7 linked regions of the Homo sapiens genome follow. The protein of the gene in region 1 interacts with the protein of each later gene in a pairwise test. Each region holds a gene or a part of one and is shown in the gene's direction. Other genes may lie near its edges.

Evidence for each region.
Region 2: the proteins of PPIE (region 1) and PHYHIP interact in a two-hybrid assay, tested with the Homo sapiens proteins (one large-scale study listed by BioGRID and IntAct).
Region 3: the proteins of PPIE (region 1) and TRIM55 interact in a two-hybrid assay, tested with the Homo sapiens proteins (one large-scale study listed by BioGRID and IntAct).
Region 4: the proteins of PPIE (region 1) and PRC1 interact in a two-hybrid assay, tested with the Homo sapiens proteins (one large-scale study listed by BioGRID).
Region 5: the proteins of PPIE (region 1) and SLU7 interact in a two-hybrid assay, tested with the Homo sapiens proteins (one large-scale study listed by BioGRID).
Region 6: the proteins of PPIE (region 1) and GTSE1 interact in a two-hybrid assay, tested with the Homo sapiens proteins (one large-scale study listed by BioGRID).
Region 7: the proteins of PPIE (region 1) and AQR interact in binary tests that used the Homo sapiens proteins (3 or more experiments, as listed by UniProt).

Annotation. Positions count from the first base shown.
Region 1 is NC_000001.11:39,741,882-39,745,381, forward strand, and holds part of PPIE (peptidyl-prolyl cis-trans isomerase E), read left to right. Parts: intron 1-13; coding exon 14-40; intron 41-46; exon of another isoform or gene 47-150; intron 151-1,334; coding exon 1,335-1,416; intron 1,417-1,942; coding exon 1,943-2,043; intron 2,044-3,493; coding exon 3,494-3,500. UniProt on the Homo sapiens protein: Involved in pre-mRNA splicing as component of the spliceosome. Combines RNA-binding and PPIase activities.
Region 2 is NC_000008.11:22,222,100-22,225,599, reverse strand, and holds part of PHYHIP (phytanoyl-CoA hydroxylase-interacting protein), read left to right. Parts: intron 1-383; exon of another isoform or gene 384-1,158; intron 1,159-1,256; coding exon 1,257-1,374; intron 1,375-3,500. UniProt on the Homo sapiens protein: Its interaction with PHYH suggests a role in the development of the central system.
Region 3 is NC_000008.11:66,154,629-66,158,128, forward strand, and holds part of TRIM55 (tripartite motif-containing protein 55), read left to right. Parts: intron 1-994; coding exon of another isoform or gene 995-1,082; intron 1,083-3,500. UniProt on the Homo sapiens protein: E3 ubiquitin ligase that plays an important role in regulating cardiac development and contractility, muscle growth, metabolism, and fiber-type differentiation.
Region 4 is NC_000015.10:90,984,536-90,988,035, reverse strand, and holds part of PRC1 (protein regulator of cytokinesis 1), read left to right. Parts: exon of another isoform or gene 1-406; intron 407-3,210; coding exon 3,211-3,343; intron 3,344-3,500. UniProt on the Homo sapiens protein: Key regulator of cytokinesis that cross-links antiparrallel microtubules at an average distance of 35 nM. Essential for controlling the spatiotemporal formation of the midzone and successful cytokinesis.
Region 5 is NC_000005.10:160,405,582-160,409,081, reverse strand, and holds part of SLU7 (pre-mRNA-splicing factor SLU7), read left to right. Parts: intron 1-384; coding exon 385-432; intron 433-621; coding exon 622-753; intron 754-1,013; coding exon 1,014-1,111; intron 1,112-1,268; coding exon 1,269-1,336; intron 1,337-1,466; coding exon 1,467-1,606; intron 1,607-2,452; coding exon 2,453-2,614; intron 2,615-3,500. UniProt on the Homo sapiens protein: Required for pre-mRNA splicing as component of the spliceosome. Participates in the second catalytic step of pre-mRNA splicing, when the free hydroxyl group of exon I attacks the 3'-splice site to generate spliced mRNA and the excised lariat intron.
Region 6 is NC_000022.11:46,303,370-46,306,869, forward strand, and holds part of GTSE1 (G2 and S phase-expressed protein 1), read left to right. Parts: intron 1-3,500. UniProt on the Homo sapiens protein: May be involved in p53-induced cell cycle arrest in G2/M phase by interfering with microtubule rearrangements that are required to enter mitosis. Overexpression delays G2/M phase progression.
Region 7 is NC_000015.10:34,959,743-34,963,242, reverse strand, and holds part of AQR (RNA helicase aquarius), read left to right. Parts: intron 1-2,428; coding exon 2,429-2,469; intron 2,470-3,500.

The DNA of each region.
Region 1 (3,500 bases):
CTTTCCTTGGCAGGATGCTGCAGCAGCTATCGACAACATGGTATGGCTGGGAATCTTAATTCTAACTAAAGTTGCTTTTTGGTGGTACAGAGGCTCCTTATTCATATATCAGTGTTCTGGACTTCCAAAGTTACAAGGTTGCATGGGGAGGTAAAAATTCTCACATGAAAATATTCACTGTGAATTGATCACTTATAAAATTAGTTCTTACTCAGACTCCTTCGCCATTTCAGAATAATGTAAGTCCTCATCATCCTTGTTGACCAGTCTCTCACTGGCTCTCCCATGTTTAGGATAATTTGCAGACACAGTGCAAATTGATTGCACGGTGTAACTGCATATTTTGCAAAATAGCAGGATTTCATGAAGTGTTAGACCAATTTACAATTGAGAAGAGAAATTTAATTATGGCAGGTGCAAATCACTGATACAAATGATTTGGATATTCTGGAAAGGTCCTTGGGAAAAATGATGATGCTCTTTAGTATTTGTGCCTTCCTTGAGATCCTTTTAGTTTTCATGTCTGATAAGAAGTGCAAAGATACCATACTGTTGATAGAATTTTGTTGGAAAAATAATACTTCAGTGCCTGTTACTTTTCTTTCTTTCTTTTTTTTTTTTTTTTTTTTTTTAACAATCTTGAACTCATGAGTTCAAGACTTCTCAGCTTCTCAAGTAGCTGGAATTACAGGCTCAAGCCAACAGGGCTACCTGGGCTACCTGTTACATTTCTTTCTACCAAGTTACATTTCTTTCTACCGATTAGTGCATAGTTAGTCCTGAATATTAATGGTAAGAAACTTGTTTTTATTATTTTTAGTTTCATCACAGTAATTTCCCAGTCAGCCTTTTAAAATTTTTCAATTTTACCACGAAATCTTCATCACCACTTCAAGTGGAGTCACCTTAAATGACCTTTCCTGGTACCGATTATCTTTGGATAATGAGATGTTGTTTTATTTGTTGTTCTGTTATCCATTCACCAAACATATTCATCAGCTGTCAGAGATCATTTTTCTTTCATTTCAAAGCTTATCTTGACTTTTGAAGGTGAACTCAAATACTGGGAAACTGCATTTATTTTTGTAATTTTGGAGTGTTCTGAACCCAGAGTTACTTTTGGTAATACAGGTCTTTGTGTGCTGCTATGAAAGAAAGGGGTGTGAGTTCCCTGAAACCCACAGGTGGCTTTGGGGTGGCTGCATAGCTTACTGGTAGAGGCCCAGGGATTAAGGGAGGACAAATCATGAGTGTGTCTCAGAAGTATATGGAAAGCTGGCTGGCCCTCTTTTAACCTAAGAGAGTTTAAGCAGCTGGATTTTCAATCTTTTCAGAATGAATCTGAGCTTTTTGGACGTACAATTCGTGTCAATTTGGCCAAACCAATGAGAATTAAGGAAGGCTCTTCCAGGCCAGGTGAGTAGGAGCAACTTCCAGATTCCCTGTGATGTTCTGCAGTTTGGCCTTAGTTGCATTTTTTGTCTCTATTTACTTGGAAGTAGATGCTAAATGCTGCTTCCTGGTAGATAGGAGTAGATGATGGTTCACATTGGGAAGGGCATGCACCACCTTTTTAGAGAAACAAGTGAGTTTGAGCTTCTCAGCAAAGCCAAAGTGATTGTTTCTGTTATGAGAGAAATTCCTGCCTGAGCTCATCTTTCCCAGTTTTCTTGATATTCCATTCCTGGGGTCTCCATCAAGGGCTGAAATCAGCAAAGGCTACACCTTTGCTTTCGGCATAGCTATTTTCCTTAGCCCTACTGAGAGCTGGACTTCAGGGCCTACATTCTGGATGGGAACTTTCCTTACCCCTGGGAGTTCTCAGTGGGGAATTGTCTGGCATACAGGCCACATAGCATCTTCCACTTTGCTGACCAAAGCAGCTACTTTTCAGTTCAAGCTGACAGCTTGAATGAACATTTGTTTGATTCTTTCCTTTCAGTTTGGTCAGATGATGACTGGTTGAAGAAGTTTTCTGGGAAGACGCTTGAAGAGAATAAAGAGGAAGAAGGGTCAGAGCCTCCCAAAGCAGAGACCCAGGAGGTGAGAATGAAGCTCCTGCTTCCAGAGCACAGGCCGGCGCTGTCCACAGGAGACTTTTTTTTTTAAGTTTTAATGGAAATTTGCCAATATGTATATCAAAGTGGAGGGAATGAATAATGAATTCTTAGTACTTTGGTAAAGTCAATATTGAGTTCTTAGTACTTTGGTAAAGTCAATATCGAGTGAATTCAAGGGCGAAACTTTGGGTCTCTTGTCCATGTTGTGTTCTATGTGATGAGTGTCTCAGCTCTGCTCAGGTATGGATTTGTGATTATCAACTGACAGGGAGGAAGCTGAGGTGCCCCTCTTCACCCCTCCTGATCAGTCCCCCTCCTTCACTGAAGAGTTTGCCACAAGGGTCGTGGTCTTCCTATTCCTGTGCTAATGGAGGGGAGACAGAATAGGGTAGTGTCCCTTCCTTCAACCTGTACATGGGTTCAGGGTTCTCCAGTCCTACGGGAACCTGCTGGGGCACTTCCCCCTGATTCTCAGCATAGTCTCTGACAGTTGCTTCCTGGGCGTCCCCTCCTCTGAGTACTTTGTGAATGTTGTCATTCTTCTGTATTTCTTTCTTGGCTCATGGTTTCTCTCTCTTCTCTCAGCTGAAACAGTAGCAGTCTATCTCTAGTTTTATGCAGCCTCTGTTATGCTGTTGATCTTCATGGTCTCTTTCTAGTCCTGAGCTTCAGATATTTCTGCCTGCAAGTCTCATGGGCAGCTTAAGTTTGCCTAAAATGGATTCTCCCGCTTCTCTAATCCTGTCTTCCTGTGTTCTCAATCTTGGCTAATTTGCCACCATTCATCCACACATTGACCCACGCCAGAAATTTGAATGCAAATCAGAACTCATAAAGTGGCCATCACAGTCAGTGGAGTCCCCCTGGATCATCCTGTATCCTCTGCTTAGTCTTACCTACTTGGAGCACAATGCAAGGCCCAACATCTTCCACTGTCTTCTGAGCACTTAGGCCTGAGCAAGAGGGCTGCCCCCTTGCTTCCATGTAGTTAGCCAGTGTATATGCAGGGCCAGGCACAGAGGGACGAGGTGGTACATGGATGGGTCTGCCTAACTAGAGGACAGTGGGTGGGCTGGAACTGGCATTTGAAGATACTGAGAGTTGTGGATCATGGACCAGAAAAGTGCTGTTCTGTGACTGTGAAGCAAGAGGAGGAAGCAGATGCATCTGAGGGCAAGCATGATGAGATAACACCCCCGTGTGTGAGGCTCAGGTTAGCCAGTGCTGAGACCTCCTGTCGCTGGGCATCCAGCTGGGTGCTACGGCCATGGCTCCTGCCTCCTGCAGCCCTATCAGGGCCCAAGGCCTTCCCCGTCAGCACTTGCTCCAGCCTACGCACTGGAGTTGTGTTCTGGGTGGGTGTGTAGAATACTCGCACTCCTACTTAGGGCGTCAGGGAGCTCTCTCTAACTAGCAATTTCTTCTGCACCTAGGGAGAGC
Region 2 (3,500 bases), on another chromosome or scaffold:
TGATCTTGAACTCCTGACCTCAGGTGATCTGCCTGCCTTGGCCTCCCAAAGTGCTGCGATTACAGGCATAAGCCACCATCCCTGGCCTTTTTCATTTTTATTTTTTGAGACAGGGTCTTGCTCTGTTGCCCAGGTTGGAATGCAGTGGCATGATCATGGCTCACTGCAGCCTCAGCAACCTCCTCCCCACGAGCCCAAGCCATCCTCCCTCCTCAGCTTCCTGGCCTCCTGAGTAGCTGGAACTACAGGCACATGCCACCATTCCTGGCTAATTTTTGATATTTTTTTGTAGAGATGGAGTTTTTCCATGTTGGTCAGGCTAGTCTCAAACTCCTGGGCTCAAGTGATCCCAAAGTGCTGGGATCACAGGCGTGAACCACTGCTGCTGGTTGAGTGGTGTTTTTTCTTAGCTCTGCTGCAGAACCCCACTCTCTGGAGGCCTCTTGCTCCTGGTGGGGAAAGCTTCTTGGTTTACCCCTGAGACCTCCATGTGCAGTGGGCATTTAATTCAAATTGGAGATCTGGCTGCAATCCAGTCCACACTCCTCTCTCCAAACCAAGCACCCTGGCCAGGGATGCAGCCACAAAGAGGGAAGGGCATCTTCTAATTTGTACCAAGGAGCTGTATGTGCCAGCAGCAGCCTTGCTGGGGCCCCAGGGTTCAATGTTGCTATCCTGTTTCCAGCCTTCCCTGTTTCTCCTGAGATGCTCAAGCTGAGAGCCATTGCTCCAGACCCAGGACTGCCTAAACATTGCCTGGGCTCAGTTCTCCCTAGACCCTCACGAGCCGTCACCTGTAATTACAGCTGGCTTCCATGGGGGTGGTGTGGGCAGCCTCCTATCTACTGTATTTGAGAGACTTTCCCAAAAGGACCTCAAGCCCTCCCGTCTCAAGTCTTCCTTTTTCCCAGGGGTCCTCTTTTCACATGAGGATGGCCTGGGATCACAGCCCCTGAGGACCCTGGCAGGATAACTGGGCAGCCCTCTGCCTTTTTCTGACCCGGAGAGCCCGGAGCCTCTGGCAATGTGGTTGCAGAGGTGATGACGACAGACAGTATGCAGCGCTCTGTGTTTCCAGCAGAGGCCAGCTGGCCTGTTCCCATCTGAGTTTAAGGTTCTGCGACTGTCTAGTCTCCCCTGCTGCTCTGGCGGACAGAGGTTGGCCGGCACACACAGTGTGGGGTGGGGTGGGGACAGGAGGTGTTTGTGCTCCTCAGCTGGCCCTCGGCTCACCTACCGCATCTGGGATCTTGCAGATTATGCCAAGGAGCACCTGGCTCAGCTTCAGGAGAAAGCTGAGCAGATCGCAGGCCGCATGCTCCGCTTCTCCGTCTTCTACCGCAACCATCACAAGGAGTACTTCCAGCATGCCAGGTATGGGCGCGGGCTCCCGGCTGGACCCGCCGGGCCTCTCCTCCCTCCCAGCCCTTCCTGCTCCTGTCCTGGCTGTCTGAGGTCACCCCCACCCTCGTGGCTGCCAGTCCCTCCTCTAGGGTTGACATGTCCTGACGTCACCAGGCTGGCTCTGAAGAGACTGCTACTTTGGGGATTGGGCTCAGGGAAGATCAAGGGCTCTGGGGACAGGGCCTTCTGCAAGAGTGTTGTACTAATGAGCCTGGGAGAATGAGGTCTGGGTTTGCTCCCACTCTGGGACAGTTCCTTTCACAGGGGTCTACCACCACAGGTCTCTCCGATTCAGGCCCTGGGGCCAAAGGGAAGGTGGCAGGGAGTGCACAAAATGAGTGTTCTGATCACAAAGGGTTCGAGGAAGCACCCAGCTCGTCGGTTTTCAAACTGGGTGCTCCCTCCAGGGAGACATGTCAGTGAACCCCTTAGAATGCTGCCATGGGGTTGGGGGGACCAGAGGTTGAGGCTTGGTGGGCCCCACACCTGACCTCCAGTCAGAGTAGCCTCAATTTTATTTGCCTGTGACCCTTCCACGTATAATTTCTTTTGGGGATAAAAAGAGAGTTGCTGCAGTCCAAAAGTGTTTGAAAATTGGTGATCTGATCCAACACCCTCAGCCTACAGAAGAGGAGCCTGAGGCCCAGAGGGAAGCACTTGTTCATTCGAGCCAGGGAGTCACTTGTTACTGAGGACAGCCAGGACCAGGCAATGTGAGGCAGGACCAGGAGTACCCACCATCCCCGGGCCTGCTGGCAAGTGCTCCAAGGCCGCATCCTTCTGAGGCTCAGCCAGGGCAAGCAGCTGCTCTGCCTTTTTTTTTTTTTTTTTTTTTGAGATGGCGTCTTCTCTGTCACCCAGGCTGGAGTGCAGGGGCGCGATCTCTGCTCACTACAACCTCTGCCTTCTGGGTTAAAATGATTCTCCTGCCTCAGCCTCTTGAGTAGCTGGGACCACAGGTATGCGCCACCATGCCCGGCTAATTTTTGTATTTTTAATGAAGTGGGGTTTCACCATGTTGGCCAGGCTGGTCTCAAACTCCTGACCTCAGGTGATCCGCCCACCTCGGCCTCCCAAGGTCCTGGGATTACAGGCATGAGCCACCACGCCCGGCCTCTGTCTGTCTTTATCCTTACAGTCAGGGCAGTTTTAACCTCAGGGCAGTGAGGACCTTGGGAGTCTTTGGGGTTTGTATTAAAGAAGCAAGGCCTGCTTGGTGGCTCAAGCCTGTAATCCTACCACGTTGGGAGGCCGAGATGGGATCTCTTGACCCCAAGAGTTCAAGACTAGCCTGAGCAACATAGTGAGACCCCAGCCTCTGCAAAAAATTTAAAGAATTAGCCGGGTGTGGATTGCTTGAGCCCAGGAGTTCGAGCTTGCAGTGAGCTGTGATTGCACCACTGCACTCCAGCCTGGAAAGCAAGTCAGTGGCCCAGTTTGGGCTCCTTTATCAGCGAGAGTGGGAGAGATAGAGAGCACTCATGGGTGCCAGGCACCTTACTTGGTGCCAGGATGTAAAGATAAAGGCACAGTTCACTCTTTTGAGAACCTCAGAATCCAGTCAGAGAGACAGTATGGAAAGATTTCATGTAAAAAGTACGTGTAATTGTTGAGCACAGTTCAGTGTCCTGGCCAGGTGAAGTGGCTCACACCTGCAATCCTAGCACTTTGGGAGGCTGAAGCAGGAGGATCACTTGAGGCCAGGAGTTCAAGTCCAGCCTGGGCAACATAGTGAGAAGATTGGGTGTCCTGCACATAGTAGGAAGCCAAAAATTTGTCAAGTGCAGGTGTCTGCTGTTCCTGGGAGGTTTTAGAGGGGAGCAGACGCTTGACTGAAGCTTGAAGGCTAATTAGAAGTTTGCCAAGCCAGACGGAGGAAGGTGGAGAGGGCAGTCAGTGCAGCAGAGGGAAGAGTCCTGCATAGGGGTCACGGAGGCAGGAGACTGTGTGTGCAGGGGGTGGGTAAGTGGATGGGGTGGCAGGAGGTGGGGAGTGGCAAGGAGACCACAGAGATCAGATCATGAGCCGCCGTGTTTTTCACACACACCCCATCAAAGGGTTTCAAGCTGGGGAGTGACAGCTTCATATCTCTTCTC
Region 3 (3,500 bases), on another chromosome or scaffold:
TTCATCTGCAGTGACTGGCTGTGTCCCCAGTCCTCCTTACCAACGGCCACTTGCCCTTGCTCAGCCTTCCCTGTGTCCTCCTTGGGCTTCTAAAGACTAATCCCCTGCTTTTGTGTCATTCCCAGCAACCCCCAAGGAGCACACTTGAGTTTTAAGTCTGTTCTGGAGAATAACCTCTGATTCATGGATTCTTGGAGTGTGCTGGCTACAGCTAGACAGAGACAGTCTTGGCTTGATTAAACCTGTGCTTCCTAAGCATGTACTCCTGGGAGTGGAAAAGCACAGGTGCTCCTCCACAGAGATTTTTTTCAAGAGACTCTTTCTTTATATGATGAGTTTGAAGTCCATGTCTTCCCCCTAACACTTGGTTAGATGTTTGCATGTCTTGAAGAGTCCACAGAAGAAATCTTTTACAATTTCTTCACAAGGAAGAATGTTCATGGTGACTCCATACTCATGAGCATTCTTAAATGATGTGTAGGGTGTGAGTGTTGCCCAGGCAAGAAGCTGCCAGAAAGCACTCTCCAGTTCCATGCTCCTGGGTCATCAGGTGATTGATTATGAACCACAAACAACATGTTCTCAAAAATCAGACAATGACTTATTATTTTGATTGTATCTGCCCAAGAGACTTCAATTCCATGAGGTAGTAAAAGGAAATGATTTTGGAAAATTAAAAGTAACATGCTTTGGGGTTGGATGTTTATTTTCACAGATAAAATGACAAAAATAAATGTTTGGTGGGAAGAAATCTTATGAGGTGGTTTTTAGGTAAAAGATGCAGTAGACTGATTATTTCTAGAAAATGTGTGGCAATTCTTATACATGGTAGTAGAAGCTGTGTGCGGAGGGGCTGTTTTCTGAAAACAGTAGTGCACTACCCCATGAAGAGCACGTAGTAGGGCTCAAGCCAAAATGAAAAGTCCATTGAAATAATGTTGAAAATAATTATTTGTGATAATATCAGTGAAGCTTTCTTCTTGTTTTCTCACAGGAGTTAGTAATCTGCCTAGCGCTTTTGGCTTTTCTTATTCTTCACTACATCTGGAGTCAGATTCAGTGCTTGATTTTTACTTTAATGGGTAGGAAATATTTTCTTTTCCCTTGACTAACATCTCACATAGTTTCTTCCATAATGTTCCTCTTCTATAGGCCCAGAGATTAATTTCTCCCCAAATCTTGAGGCTCAGTCCTCCCAAAAGAACATTGTTCTCAGATTATACTGGAGGCCTCAAGCTCACACAATGCAATCGCCTCAAGACCTCTTTCTGAGGAGAATTGCTCCATTATCTATTCCTGCATGGAGGGGAACCTTGACTGAGAACAGTAACTCCATGGGCAATTATTCAGTAATCCAGGAGGAGCAAACCCTCCAGAATGGTCATTAGGGGAGGCCAGTTTCAAGTGTCCATAATGCGGTGAGGACTTACTGCTCGTAGAGAAAGGAGCGGCAAAGGACTCCTGCAGGAAAATGCAGGTTTCCATAGATTAAGTACAAGCATTTCATCTGCTTACACCAGAGATGCCCAGGAGGTGGCCAAGTGACTCCTCGTGGGATGATGTTCTAGGCAGTTCCTATGCAGGTGAGCAGGTGGGTTCTCTTTGAACCCTCAGACTCTACAGAGTTTCTCCTGGGAGAGGAGGTCCCTGAGAGAAAGATGCCCTGACTGAAGAAATATCTGGGGGATTGCAGCCACGTGAGACCTGAATGAATTAACAGCCAGAGGATCAATGTGCACTTACCAGCTATCAGGAATTAGAACCAAGAACTAAGCCATAAAGTCATCAAGCAGTCCATTTATATTATTTCCGAGTCACCGTTCTCATAGCCAAGCCTTTGCTTGATTGCTGTTATGAGGTTTGCTTGAGGACTGACATCATAATCCTTTAATACCCTTTTGAAAGTTCTCAGTTTAATTAATAATATTTAAAGATTCCAACTTCCATGTACTTTTGTGTAAATGACCCTGCTGGGCCTGAGACCCAACTCCTTGTTCCTGTAGCTCAAAGGCAGTTCAGGGTCAATGGTGCTGAAAAGCCTCGGCTATTTCTGGCTCACTGACTTTTCCCTGGGTTGACACTGACTCTTCTGGAAGCTCCCTTCATAGACTTTCTGCCTCATTAGCCATCTGCTCAGCAATGGCGGTGGCGTCTCCATTGGTCTCTGCCGTGTCTGGAACTGTGTGTGAGCAGGACCTGCCCACAATGTCCAATAGTCAGCTGGAAACCTGTGCACCCTAGAGTGTCCTGAGTGTCCTTACAGTCTGCTCAGCTGCCCAACTCCTTCAGACATTATCTGTGGTAAAAAGGAGTGGGAGGATGTATTGGCCATGGACTCAGAGGGGTGAATGGTGAGAGAGAAAACTCCATGCTTTATTGGAACCAGGACCTAATTGTGGATCTGAATAATTGTCTGAAGGGTTCTGTTTACATTCTGAGAATTCGGGTTTAGGGCTTTGTCACTACATATATGTCTTGTATTGCTTCTCTGAGGCTGCAGAGGGAGTGTCATGCTTCAAGGCTGTGATCCACTGAGCCCATGTCATGTATGCTGACATCCACGTGCCTGCCTAGGGAGAGGAGGGTGGGGCAGGTGGAGCAGGTGTGGGGAGGGCGTTGACATCCAGTATTGCAAAAAACCTTACTGTATAGTTCTTGGTGTTTGAGGAAGGGCCTTTCACATAGAGAAGGACACCTGTTCATGATGGAGTACTACTCTTTGATCCCAGAAATGGGATATGGGCAGGTTGATAGAGACCTCACTATAGTAGCAAATTCCCGGCCTCTGAGAATATTTTGCAGGTCTGATTCACCTTCACCACTTCAGAACCCAGTTTACCAGATTCATATTTGTCCAGTTCAAGGTTAGAGTGCTAGAATTTCACATTTCATCACTAGGCTTACCTTGAGTATTTAGGATGTGGTAAGAGTTCTCTTTGATTCAGTGGTGGTCTTATCTCTCTTTACTAGGTGGTCCCGTGTCAGAGTAATGCTGCCTTTAAAACTCAGAAGCATCTCAGGCTCACTTGCTGATCTGTAAACTACATTCAGCCCACAACAGCTGAACTGCAAACCTTTTAGAAGCAAATGCTCTATTTCCTGGTGCTTTCCTTACATCCATGTACACAGTGAAACATGCCCTCGATTTTACTGCCTGTGGTTTCTGGTGCTGAACAATTTCTGCTTTATCACATACCTTACCTTCTCTCTTCACCCAAGTACACAGGCAAAAAAAACCGGTCATGGCAAAAACCAAACATCAGCTTCCTCTACGAGTGATGGACAGGACCACTACTTTTTGTTAGATCAGAAGAGTGCTGTAGCTCCCCCATGGGCATTCTCTAAGAAAAAGCAAGGTTTGGATTCAGCCTTGTGGTGAATTTGAACTCATCAAAGGCCCCAGTTTCCTTGGGCTTCTACAGGATCTCTATTTGGTGGATTAACTCAGCAGCTGCTCTGGCTGATACTTGAGCTGGACACAGCAGCTGCCTCAGGGTAAG
Region 4 (3,500 bases), on another chromosome or scaffold:
AAAGTGAAGGGAGTACCGTAAATTCTTTTAAACGTTTGTCAGTATTTGGGTATTGGTATGGCCATCTGGTATAGGCAACAGGTATTTGTGTAGAAATGTTTCTTCAACAAGGACGGGCAACCTCTAAACTAGGATTTCGTGGCTGGAGATATTTTGGATGTGAATGTATTAACAGCTTTGGAGAGACACATTGTTAGAGATCCAGGCTGGTGACTTGTAGAACCACCGAAAGCTCTGAGACAGAAAGGGGCTAATGAAAGTCTCTAGTTGCAGTTGGGTGTGGATGGCACACAAAGACCTTAAGTGTTTAGGTGATTTGCTGCAGGCTTCTCGGCCGACTGGAAGCAGAGCACATCTAGATTGTAGTTTCTCTGGTGCCAGGGCAGTCTTAGTTGTCCTGTTATACCTAAGAAAAGGGAGAAAAATTTCTATTCTTTAAATGTTCTGTAAAGCAGACTAATTGTGATAATTTTTAAAGTAAGCTGTTCTTAAAAGATAAGATACAGAAGCCAGTTAAATTTGTATTTTAGATAAATAATTTTTTGTTAAAATAAGCTTTTGGTAATTGAAGAATAACATACATTCAGAAACGTACAGAAATCAAGTGTAAACTCAGTGAATTGTTCACAGTTGATGCACCTGTGTAAGCAGCAACCCAGAAGCCCTCTACCAGTCACTGCCTCCCCTGAGCCAAAAGAACTACTATCCTGACTTCTGAAAGCATTGATTAGTTTGGCCTGGTTTTGTTTTTGCTTTTTTTGTTTTCGTTTTTGAGATAGGGTGTTGCTTTGGAGTGCAGTGATCATAGCTCACTGCAGCCTCATCCTCTCAGGCTCAAGCAATCCTCCCACCTCAGCCTCCTGAGTAGCTGGGACTATAGGCATACGTCACCGTGCCCGGCTAATTTTTTTTTTTTTTTTTTTTTTAAGACGCAGAGTCTCACTATGTTGCCCAGAATGATCTGAAACTCCTGGGCTCAAACAGTTTTCCTGCCTCGGCCTTGCAAGGTGCTAGGAATACAGGCGTGAACTACCGTGCCTGGCCAGTTTTGCCTGTTTTTGAACTCTCTGTCAACGGAATCACATAGTGATACACATTTGCATATCTAGTGGCATTTGCTCAGCCTAAAGTGTTTTTTTTTTCCTTCCTCTTCCCCTTACAACTATTTTTTAGTTGTTTATTTTACTTCATTAAAAAAATGAAAAGATTTGAGGTATAATTCATACACAGTAAAACAGACTCGCTTTACAGGTAGTTTCAATTGTATACTGTTGTATAATCGCCATCAAGATCTAGAACTATTTCATCACCCCAAAAAAGTAAAATAAATAAATAAATAAAATAGAAATATAATAATTTGAGCTTTATCCATATCATGTGTAGTGTGTTCATTTTCTTTTTTGACAGTTTCGCTCTGTCGCCCAAGCTGGAGTACAGTGGTACAATCTTGGCTCACTGCAACCTTGGCTCACTGCAAACCCTGCCTCCCGGGTTCAAGCGATTCTCCTGCCTCAGCCGCCCCAGTAGCTGGGATTACAGGCGCACCACCACACCCAGCTAATTTTTTGTGTTTTTAGTAGAGACAGGGTTTCCCCATGTTGGCCAGGCTGGTCTCCTGACCTCAAGTGATCTGCTCCCCTCGGCCTCCCAGAGTCCTGGAATTACAGGTGTGAGCCACTGCACCCAGCCAGTTTGTTCATTTTCATTGCTGCATTAGTGCATTGTAGGAATGTACTATTCATTCTGTTGATAGACATCTAGGCTGTTTCTGTTTCCCTGCTATTATGAGTAGTGCTTCTCTAACCATTCTCATATATGTCTTTGGTGAACGTATGTGTTCATTTCTGCTAGGTATGTATGTAGAGGTAGAACTGCTGGGTTCAGCTTTAGTAGATAGACTGCCAACAGTTTTTAAAATAGTTGTACCAATTTACACCATGCCAGCAGCATATGAAAGTTCTCACTTTTCTATATACTCACCAACACTTAATGCTGTCTTTTTAACTTTAGCCATTCTTTGAGCTGCTAGTTGTAATTTAAGAAGAATAGGCCAGGCATGGTAGCTCACGCCTGTAATCCCAGCAATTTGGGAGGCCGAGGCAGGTGGATCACTTGAGGTCAGGAGTTCGAGACCAGCGTGGCCAACGTAGTGAAACCCCATCTCAATGGCTTTTTAACTTTAGCCATTCTTTGAGCTGCCGGTTGCAATTTAAGAATACTAGGCCCGGGCGCAGTGGCTCATGCCTGTAATCCCAGCACTTTGGGAGGCCGAGGTGGGTGGATTTTTGTGTTTTTGTAAAAATACAAAAATTAGCTGGGTGTGGTGGCACACACCTGTAATCTGAGCTACTTGGGAGGCTGAAGCAGGAGAATCACTTGAACCTGGGAGGCGGAGGTTGCAGTGAGCTGAGATCTCACCACTGCACTCCAGCCAGGGCAACGGAGCGAGACTCTGTCTCAAAAAAAAAAAAGAAAATAAAAATAAATAAATTAATTAAATAAAATGGCAAGGCACAGTGGCTCACATATGTAATCCTAGCACTTTGGGAGGCCGAGGAGGGCGGATCACTTGAGGCCGGGAATTCAAGACCCACCTGGCTAACATGGCGAAACCCCAACTCTACTAAAAATACAAAAATTAGCTGGGTGTGGTAGCACCTGCCTATAGTCCCACCTACTCGGGAGGCTGAGTCAGGAGAATCATTTGAACGCAAAAGGTAGAGGTTGCAGTGAGCCAAAATTGCACCACTGCACTCCAGCCTGGGCGACAGAGCAAGATGCTGTCTCAAAAAAAAAGAAAAAACAAAAAAAAAACACCAAAAAAATAGTAATAAATTGCCAAACATTTTGCAGGAGTTTCTCACCAGCAAGTTCTTGTGTTAGTTTATTTTACCAACATCTTTTGTCCGGTTTTTCTTTAGTAAAAGTATTTATAATTCTGTATTATACTTCCATAGGTAGATCATTGTTGAAAGTCCAGAAGGTTGAGCTTCCATGATGTAATATGATATGAAATCTTGTATTGCTAGTGGCATTTGGTAGGAAAAGGGATGGGGAGTGGTTAAAGGTGAATTAAGCTGAATGCTTGTTTTCAATTTGTTTTTTTCTCGAGGCCACTGAGAAGCTAGTCTTTTTAGTTCTCGAAAATAGTGCTTTTAGTCCAGAGGCTGTGACTGATGTAACTAACAGGCCTTAGTTTTTGGTTTTCAGTGAGGTGCTGGCGGAGGAGTCCATAGTATGTCTGCAGAAAGCCCTAAATCACCTTCGGGAAATATGGGAGCTAATTGGGATTCCAGAGGACCAGCGGTTACAAAGAACTGAGGTGGTAAAGAAGCATATCAAGGTGGGTTGAATAGTACTGGTCTCTGCATTGGACCAGGGTAAGGATGTTGGTGTCTCACCCGAGATAGCATACAGAAGGGACATGTGATCATCGGCATTAGGATAGCACAGGCTCTTCCTGTTTGGTTTGGTTTGGTTTTGAAGTCCCTTCTTGAAAT
Region 5 (3,500 bases), on another chromosome or scaffold:
TAATCTTTCTGTTACCATTTTGTGGTTATAATCTTAATTAAAATTCTCTTGAAATTTGCTGGCTTTATAGACAGTGTAATAAAATTATTTACAATGGCACTCTTGTATTCAGAATTTTTGCGCTCATTATAACTGAGAAGTGTGAGAGTTTGTTCAGTTAGAATTAAGTTTTATTATCTTAATACTTATTTATAAGTTACATATTATATATTATATAATAAATATTTATTATATATAATATAAATATAATATATAATAAAATATATTTTATTATATAAATATATTATTTATAATAAGATAATAATACTTTATTATCTTAATAATAAAGTTAATTGGATTAAGTGGAATGAGATTATGAATGATTTTTCTTCTTTCATGATGCAGAATTCTCCAAAACACCAGTGGGGAGAAGAGGAACCAAATTCTCAGATGGTAATACATATTTGCTGTCTCTGAGTATATGTTAAATTTTTAAATTTCTGATGGCTAATAATAAATAACACTAATAATAGCTTTTAAAGAACACAAGTAAATAAGGGTTTGGTTAAAGGGAAAGGGGAAAAAAAAGAACTACATGCTGCTTTCTTTTCTTCTTACTTTTCCTTCCTCTCCCTCTTTTAGGAAAAAGATCATAATAGTGAAGATGAGGATGAAGATAAATATGCAGATGATATTGACATGCCTGGACAGAATTTTGACTCCAAGAGACGAATTACTGTCCGGAATCTCAGGATTCGAGAAGATATTGCAAAAGTAAGTCTTGTCAGCTTAACATACATATTTGAAAAATACTTGTCTTCCCAGCATAAATTTTATCGACTCTGGGTAGCATATGGATAATATAGTCAGAGTCATTCTAAGATAAGGTTTCATTCTGTTTTTTCTCTTCACCTGAACCCCAGAAATGTATACACACATTTATTTAATTGATCATGTTCAACTCCTCCAACTAGTCTGCTGAAATCTTTTTGCTGTGAGTAAACATTAATTCTTTAAATATTTTTTTCTTCTAGTATTTGAGGAATTTAGATCCAAATTCTGCCTACTATGATCCAAAAACTAGAGCAATGAGAGAGAATCCTTATGCCAATGCAGGAAAGAATCCAGATGAGTAAGTATCAAGTTAAATGTACAGATTTTAAGATGAGAGAAAGTTAATTGTTTTCTGACCTGACCATAGATGGTGTTCATTTTAATTCAGATTCAGTTTTACGAATTAATTTTCCTTAAATCAATCTCTGAAACATTTTCTTTATTTGTATTTACAGAGTGAGTTATGCTGGAGATAACTTTGTTAGGTACACAGGAGATACCATTTCAATGGCTCAGACACAGTGTAAGTGTTTCCTCTATGTCAAGCCATTTTATATCAGCTCATAAGACGTTTGGGATTGTTTAAAGCTTGTTTTCAAGAAGCATACAGTAATGCAGCTGCCAACTCACTAAGATGTTTTGAATTACTCTAGTGTTTGCATGGGAAGCCTATGACAAGGGATCTGAAGTGCATCTACAGGCAGATCCTACAAAGCTAGAGCTGTTGTATAAGTCCTTCAAAGTCAAAAAAGAAGATTTCAAAGAACAGCAGAAAGAAAGCATCCTGGAAAAGGTAATTTTGACCAAAATGCTAAAGAAGAACTTCTGTTAAAGAGAAGTTACTAGTTAATAAGCGTTAGTTTTACATTTGGAAAATAATGCAAAGAGAGCCCTCTTAATCCATGAAGAATAGTCCTTTTCTTCCTTTCTCTTAGTCAGATGGTAATTTTGTATGAGCTTTTGCAGCAAAACAAGCTACCTCAAATCTTAATAGCTTAAAATAAACATTTATTGTTTCTCACAGTTGGCCAAGTCTCCTGGTCTGGGCTTGCTCAGCTGAGGTTAGATGATGAACTAAGATGGCCTCACTCTTGTGTTTAGCAGTTAACAGGCTAATTGTCCTAAGGGGACCTCTTCTGGGACAGCTCATCTCCACCCCATGTGGTCTTTCATCCTCTAGTAGGGTAGCACAGCTTTTTAAAATGGCATTCTCAGAGTTCTAGAGAGTGGCAGCAAAAAGTGTGCTGTGGTACATAAGTGCCTTTGCTTGCATCACATTTGCCAACTTTCATTGGTCAAAGCAAATAACATGGTCAGGCCCAGATTCAAGGGACAGAGAAAGACTTCGTCTCTTGATGGGAAGAAAAGCAAAGCCCTGTGGCAAAAGGGCATGTATAGAAAGATAAGAGGAATTTATGGCCATCTTGTAACTTACTGTACTCAACAGATGAATAGCAACTGAGACATCTTCTATTTGCCTCAGAAAAAATTTGTGGCTTTTTTTTTCCTACTGTGCTTTCTATAACAAAACCCAGTAAAGAATGTTCCCTTTCTTTCTGATTAGAAATAAATGTTTTCTGGAAATTTAAATGCAAATCAGGTTGTAAAATGTATTGAATAATGTCCAATGTCCTTTTAGTATGGTGGCCAAGAACATTTGGATGCCCCTCCAGCTGAATTGCTTTTAGCCCAGACTGAAGACTATGTGGAGTACTCAAGACATGGGACAGTCATCAAAGGACAGGAGCGGGCTGTTGCCTGCTCTAAGTATGAGGAGGATGTGAAGATCCACAATCACACAGTATGTGCTAAACTGGAACAATTTTGTGTCCTTGTTGGTTTTGCTCTGTATTGCATTTTTCCACTACAACTTTATTAGCTAACCATTTGTATTCTCTATGCTTTAAAAAAAAAAAAAAATTTTAACTGTTTCATGGAATTTTTTCAAAAATAGAAAAATTTTGAAGGAATACTATGTTCATCTATATACCCATCATCTAAATTCTGAAATTTTTAACATATTGCCTTATATGCTTTGTCTAGTTGTATGTGTGCATATGCACAGTTTTACATATATATGTAAAATACACATATATACACACATATAGTTTATGTATATATTTATTTGACTGAAACATTTGGAAATTATGTATATCATGACATTTTATCCATAAACGCTGTATCACATATCTCCTTAAAATGAGGATTTTCTTCTATATAACCACATCGACATTATTGCACTTCAGAAAATTAACATTATATCACCTAATATCTAGTCATTAATCACATTTTCCAAAATATACAGAAAAATGCCTTTAACACCTATTTTTTGTTTTAGTCAGAATTCGTTTCAAATTTCTTTTGATCGTTATGCGGTTATTATGTCTCTTTTCTAGAGTGTATCTCTTCATTTTCATGACGGTGACCATTTAACAGATTAGGCCAATTAGTTTGTAAATTGTCTCATATTCTGTATTGACTGGTTCCTAGTAGTGTTATATAACTTGTTTCTCTATCCCTGTATGTTTTATAAATAGGAATTTAGGTCTAACGGCTTGATTGGATATAAGTTAAATATTTTGACAAGAATATTTAATAAGTAATGTAGTATATTCATATTGCATTGTAAACATCATAAAGCATATATTGTCCTTTGCTGTTCTCTTGAAGTAACCAAACTACAATTG
Region 6 (3,500 bases), on another chromosome or scaffold:
AAAGCTGTTGATTGCTCTGTAATGATTTTGTCCTTAGCCATGTTCTTTTATCCTTTTACTACTTATAGTAGTTTCCAGTTGATCTTCTTGATTTGTTTCTCGTGTCTATAATCATGGCATCTGTGCAGTGTGATCATGTTACCTCCACATTCCTTCCTTTGCCTGACTGTGTTGCTTTATGTGTCCAGAACAGTGTTAAGAATTGTGCTTGGAGATGTCATTGCCACGTGCCTGGCTTTAATGGAATTGCTTCTGTGGTTTTTCATTAAGTCCGATACTGGGTTATGGGTTAATTTCCAAGTAAATGGTAGTCGTAGGTGTGCTATTCATGAGCATTTCTATGTGTTTGTCTTCTGGGCATGTAATAGAATTGTACTCCCTGTTCACTTGAAATTCAGTTGGCTCTGGTGACTCACTTGGCCAGTGAAATGGGAATGTTGTCGTGTGTGTCATTTCTGGGTGGAAATCTTCAAGAACCAGTGTGGAATTGGTTCTTTTCCTTCCTGCCATGGAGACGAGCGGTGTTCCTGATGGTGGAGGCTCCATCAGTTGGGGTCCTGGAGTGAGGAGGCCAGGGAGCAGGGCCCCAGCCTACCCCTCTGCAGACATATAGTTTGAGTGAGAAATATACCTTTGTGGTTTTTGGTTTGTTTTGAGACAGTGTCTCTTGCTCTATTGCCCAGGATGGAGTGCAGTGGCTTGATCATAGCTCACTGCAGCCGCAAGCTCCTGGGCTCAGCATCCTGAGTAGCTGGGACTACAGGTATATGGCACCATACCCCGCTCATTTTTTTTTTTCTTTTTGTAGAGCTGGGGTCTCGCTATGTTGCGAGGGCTGGCCTTGAACCCCTGGGCCTCAAGTGATCCTCCTTGGCCTCCCATAGTGCTGGGATTACAGGCACAGGCCACCATACCTGGCCTACCTTTGTTGTTTTAAGGGTTGTTACTTCAGCATGTTAGCCTATCCTAACTGGTAAGATCAATTTGTTCCTGTCTTTAGAAGGAATACTTCTGACGTTATCCCACTGAACCTAATGCTGGCTTTGGGTTGAGATGGGGATTTCCTTATATATCTATTACTTTTTATTAAGAGCCTCTAAAATCAAGAATGTATGTTGTATTTTATCATATGCCCGTTCAACATATGTGCAGACGATCATGGTTTTCTCTTTAGCTCTAGTAATAAAATGATTATATGAGTAGATTGTATGAAATGAAACCATCTCACAGTCATGAAATGCAGGGAGCTTGGTTGTGTTATGTTATTACCACTTTAATGTTTGCAGGATTCTTTTTGCTGGTATTCTTGTTAAAGAGTTTGATGTTAGGCCAGGTGTGGTAGCTCATACCTGTAATCCCAGCACTTTGGGAGGCCAAGGTAGGAGGAATGCTTGTTCCCAGCAGTTTGAGACCAGCCTGGGCAACATGAGGAGATCCCATCTCTACAAAAAATACAAATATTAGCCAGGGATGGTTGTGCGTGCCTGTAGTCCCAGCTACTCGGGAAGCCGAGACAGGAGGATCCCTCGAGTCCAGGAGTTCGAGGCTGCAGTGAGCTATGATTGTACCACTGTACTCCAGCCTGGGTGACAGAGCGAGACCCTGTCTCAAAAAAAGAAAAAGGATTATTATGCTGATGTAAGTAAGGCTGGTCTTTACTTTCTTTATTGATCACTTTCTAGGTTTTTTGGTAACATACTTACTTGCCTCGTGGAAGTAAGTTGGAAAGTTTTTTTTCTTTTAATCCTCTGGAGTGATGTAAATAGTATTGGAATTATTTGTTCTTTAATGTTTTGATACAATTATCCTATGAATCTAGTTGGGACGCTTTTTTGAAGAGGATAGCTCTTTAATAAATTTCACCAGTTATTTTATGATTATTGAAGTATTAAGATTTTCCCTGTCTTCTGGAGTCAGTTTTATAAATAAGTACATTTAGACAATTTAAATAAAAAATAGACTGGATGCGGTGGCTCACGCCTGTAATCCCAGCACTTTGGAAGGCCGAGATGGAGGGATCACGAGGTCAGGAGATCGAGACCATCCTGGCTAACATTGTGAAACCCCGTCTCTACTAGAAATACAAAAAATTAGCTGGGCGTGGTAGCACGTGCCTGTAATCCCAGCTACTCGGGAGGCTGAGGCAGGAAAATCGCTGGAACCTGGGAAGCAGAGGTTGTAGTGAGCCAAGATCACACCACTGCACTCCAGCCTGAGTGACAGAGTGAGACTCCATCTCAAAAAAATAAAAAGAATATACCAAGTGCAGTGGCTCACGCCTGTAATCCCAGCACTTTGGGAGGCTGAGGCAGGTGGAACACAAGGTCAGGAATTTGAGACCAGCCTGGCCAACATGGTGAAACCGCATCTCTACTAAAAATACGAAAATTAGCCCGGTGTGGTGGCGCGCGCCTGTAATCCCAGCTACTCAGGAGGCTGAGGCAGAAGAATCTCTTGAACCTGGGAGGCGGAGGTTGCAGTGAGCCAAGATCACCCCACTGCACTCCAGCCTGGGCAACAGAGTGAGACTCCATCTCAAAAAAAAAAGAATAAATAAAATTATATTTTCCTAGAAAATTATCTCTTTCAGCCAAGTTCTTAGGTTTATGTGCATGAAGTTGACAGATGTGCTTATGGATCTTTTCATTCCCTCTCTGTGTGGTTATTTCTCTTTTCTTTCTTTTGTGCATTTGTTCTGACTTCTCCTTGATTAGGTAATTAAGAATAATTGATTAATCAGGACCAAATTAGGATATTAGTATATTTTCAAATTTTATGATTTTTGAGAAGCATGCTGTGTTGTTATTTTTATTTATTTATTTATTTTTTTGAGACAGAGTCTCACTCAGTCACCCAGGCTGGAGTGCAGTGGCGCGATCTCTGCTCACTGCAAGCTCCGCCTCCCAGGTTCACGCCATTCTCCTGCCTCAGCCTCCCGAGTAGCTGGGACTACAGGCACCTGCCACCACGCCCGGCTAATTTTTTGCATTTTTTGTAGAGACAGGGTTTCACCATGTTAGCCAGGATGGTCTTGATCTCCTGACCTCGTGATCCGCCCGCCTCGGCCTCCCAAAGTGCTGGGATTACAGGCGTGAGCCATTGCGCCCAGCCTGTTTTGTTTTGTTTTCTGAGACAGAGTCTTGCTGTGTCACCCAGGCTGGAGTGCAGTGGCGCAATCTTGGTTCATTGCAACATCTACCTCCGAGGTTCAAGCAATTCTCCTGCCTCAGCCTCCCCAGTAGCTGGGATTACAGGTGCACACCACCACGCTCGGCTAATTTTTTTATTCTTTATTTTTGGTAGAGATGGGATTTTGCCACGTTGGCCAGGCTGATCTCGAACTCCTGACCACAAATCATCTGCCTGCCTCAGCCTCCCAAAGTGCTGGGATTACAGGTGTGAGCCACCTTGCCCGGCCTTCATTGTTTATTAAGATAAAAACATTTATGGGAGAGCTTTATAAGCTTTACAGTATTGAGCAAATACTGTATTTCAGTGCA
Region 7 (3,500 bases), on another chromosome or scaffold:
CTTTGGGAGATCAAAGAGGGAAGATCACCTGAAGCCAGGAGTTTGAGACTAGACTGGACAGTAGTGAGATCTCGCCTTTACAAAAAAATTAAAAAAATTGGCTTGTGCAGTGGCTCACACATGTAGTATCAATTGCTCTGGAAGCTGAAGCGGGAGGATGACTGACTGAGCCCAGGAGCTTGAGGCTGCAGTGAGCTGTAATCAGGCCACTGCACTCCAGCCTGGGCAACAGAATGAGACCCTGTCCCTTAAAGAGAGTGAGGTCTTTAAATGAAATAGATGTTGACACTGCATACCATTCAACAAGTAATGAAGACTCTTAAGCTTTGCCATTATAAATTTAATGGTGATGCTTTAGGCACTGTTGGTAAAACTGAACTTTTTACCCAAAATTTCTTACTTTATTTGAACTTAAATTCTTACGAATATATATTTGTTTTTGCCAGTAATCTTTTATTTATTTTTTTTTTTTGGAGGTGGAGTCTCGCTCTTGTCACCCAGTTTGGAGTGTAATGGCACGATTCTGGCTCACTGCAGCCTCCACCTCCTGGGTTCAAGCGATTCTTCTGCCTCAGCCTCCTGAGTAGCTGGGATTACAGATGCACGCCACCACGCCCTGCTAATTTTTGTATTTTTAGTAGAGACGGGGTTTTACCATGTTGGCCAGGCTGGTCTCAAACTCCTAACTTCAGGTGATCTGCCCACCTTGGCCTCCCAAAGTGGTGGGATTACAGGCTTGAGCCACCACACCCGGCCAACCAGTAATCTTTATTTTATTATTTAATTTGAAATTTGATGAAAACAATAACAGAGCATTTCATCTAGATTGAACAAGACTTGTTTTCCTTATCGCCTCCCTCCCTTTACCACTCACAAATACTTATTTCACAAATGTACTTGGAGCAATTAAAAGATATTATAGGCTAGGTACCATGGCTCATGACTGTAATCCCAGCACTTTGGGAGGCTGAGGCGGTAGGTCACTTGACTTCAGGAGTTCAAGACCAACCTGGGCAACATGGTGAAACCCCATCTCTACCAAAAATACAAAAAATTAGGTGGGTATGGTGGTGTATGCCTGTGGTCCCAGCTATTTGGGAGGCTGCGGCTGGAGGATAGTTGAGACTGGAAGGCAGACGTTGCAATGAGCTGTGATTGCACTGCTACACTCCACCCTAGGTGACAGAGTGAGACCCCATCTCAAAAAAAAAAAAAAAAGACATTATAGTTACCATACAATAATATTATAGCATGTTAAAGCACTTCATAATTTTACAGTAGTATTTTTTTTTACTATTATTAATGCTAGCACTACTACTGCTGCTATTGATAACTGTTAGTGAAGGCTCACTGTATGCCAGTATTTGTACTAATTGTTTATATGCCCTGTCTTATTTTATTTTCAGTAACCCTGTGTGGTAGTTTGTGTTATTAGATCTGTTTTGTGGGTAAGGAAACTGAGGCTTGGAGAGGTCAGGCACTTGCCTAAGAGTTCCAGCCATCAGTAGTGAAGGCAGATGTTTTGAACCAGTCTTCCAATTCGAGAGTCTGAGTTCTTTTTTTCTTTTTTTTTTTTTTTTGAGATGTACAGTTCCAGAGTCAGAATTCTTTTTTTTTTTTTTTTTTTTTTGAGATGGAGTCTCGCTCTATCACCAGGCTGGATGGAGTGCAGTGGCGCGATCTTGACTCACTGCAACCTCCGCCTCCCGGGTTCAAGTGATTCTCCTGCCTCAGCCTCCGAAGTAGTTGGGACTGCAGGTGTGCGCCACCACGCCCAGCTAATATTTGTATTTTTAGTAGAGACAGGGTTTCACCATGTTGGCCAGGATGGTCTTGATCTCTTGACCTCATGATCCACCCTCTTCGGCCTCCCAAAGTGCTCGGATTACAGTCGTGAGCCACCGTGCCTGGCCAGAGTCTGAATTCTTAAGTAGTACACCATTCTGCCCACCCTCACTCAAATGAATGGAAATTCTGAAGCTCTATCATATTCATTTGGATAAAGAGATGTAACAATTAGAATTTGTGTCTGTTATGTCTTCACACTTTTAAATTATTTTCTCTCTGGGTTTTGCAGGCACACAGTTATGACTCTCAAATGGAGTCTCATAACATTTATACACTTTAAGTTTAAAAAAAATCCTGATCTTGTGAATTTTTATTTTCCCTAAAAATCTTTATAAGCACATCATTTTAATGAATCTAGGGCTCTGTTTTATTATTTGTTTTTTCTACTTTGCTTTCTGTTAATTTCATATTTCGAGGAATATAATGGGATTATTTTAAATATCTCATTATTTCAATAGCAGTAATATTTGATGGCTTTCCTAAACCAACTTATTTTATATAATCTCACTCATTAAAAACTGTCAATTTAGGGTTGAAAAAAGTTGTTGAGATATTAAACATTTTTATATTTTTATAACAGGTTATTGAAGATATATATGAAAAAGAGATTGTCAAATCAAGGTAGGAATGAATTTAAATTTTATACAATGTGATTGGGGTGGACCAAGTTGGATCTTGGCTGAACTTCTAAATGTGATCATAACTTGAACCCTTTTTCTGTTTCAAACTGGTCGTCAGGGCAATGGTGACTAGAAAAACTTTAGGTGCTGAAGAGTCATAAATTATTTTTTGCCTTCTAACTTTTGGCTCAGATTAGAGGTATCAAATCCCATAGGGTTTATTTGGATTTAGATGGAATTTGAGAAAAAGTAAACATGAAGATTTTATTACTAGTATTATTTCTGATTCACCTTTTAAAAATATTCTTAAAAAGTTATGAAAGTAAGACATTATTAAATTTACAATAATATAGTATACATATGTAATGTATAAAATGTATAATAATAAACACAGAAGTGATAAAAATTATTTTTGAGCAATATGCTGTAAGGGGTGAGTTTCAATAAATCATCTTTTCTGCCCCCAATCCCTGGTTCATGTATATGGTTCATATACATCTGTTCTATTCCCCACGCCTTCACATGTTTTTTCAAACACAAAAGGGTTTGTACTCTACATGCTATTTTTCATCATGCTTCTTTTAAAAAATTTAACAGCGTGTCTTAGGCATCTTTTTGTATATACACCTGCAGACATGTATGTCCAGTGAGTATTTTAAAAGGATATTTGACTAAATGGGTCAAAGGCCATCTTCAGGATTTTGTTCTTTATTTGGAAAACAGTAGGAAGTAAGAAGAGTTGTAAGCACAGTGGTATTTGAAAAAGAGAATTTGGGTTTGTTTGTTTTTTTTCTTTTTTTGAGACAGGGTTTCACCATGTTGGCCAGGCTAGTCTCAAACTGCTGGCCCCAAGTGATCCACCTGCCTTGGCCTTCCAAAGTGCTGGGATTACAGGCATTAGCCACTGCACCCAGCAAGAATTTGGATTTGGAGGGAGCAAGAGGCAGGGAATTAATTAGGTGAGCATTGTAGTAGTCAGCTTCAAGATGTCATAGATTTGGCTTGTGTGGAAAGTTGGGAGCGGAATTGTCC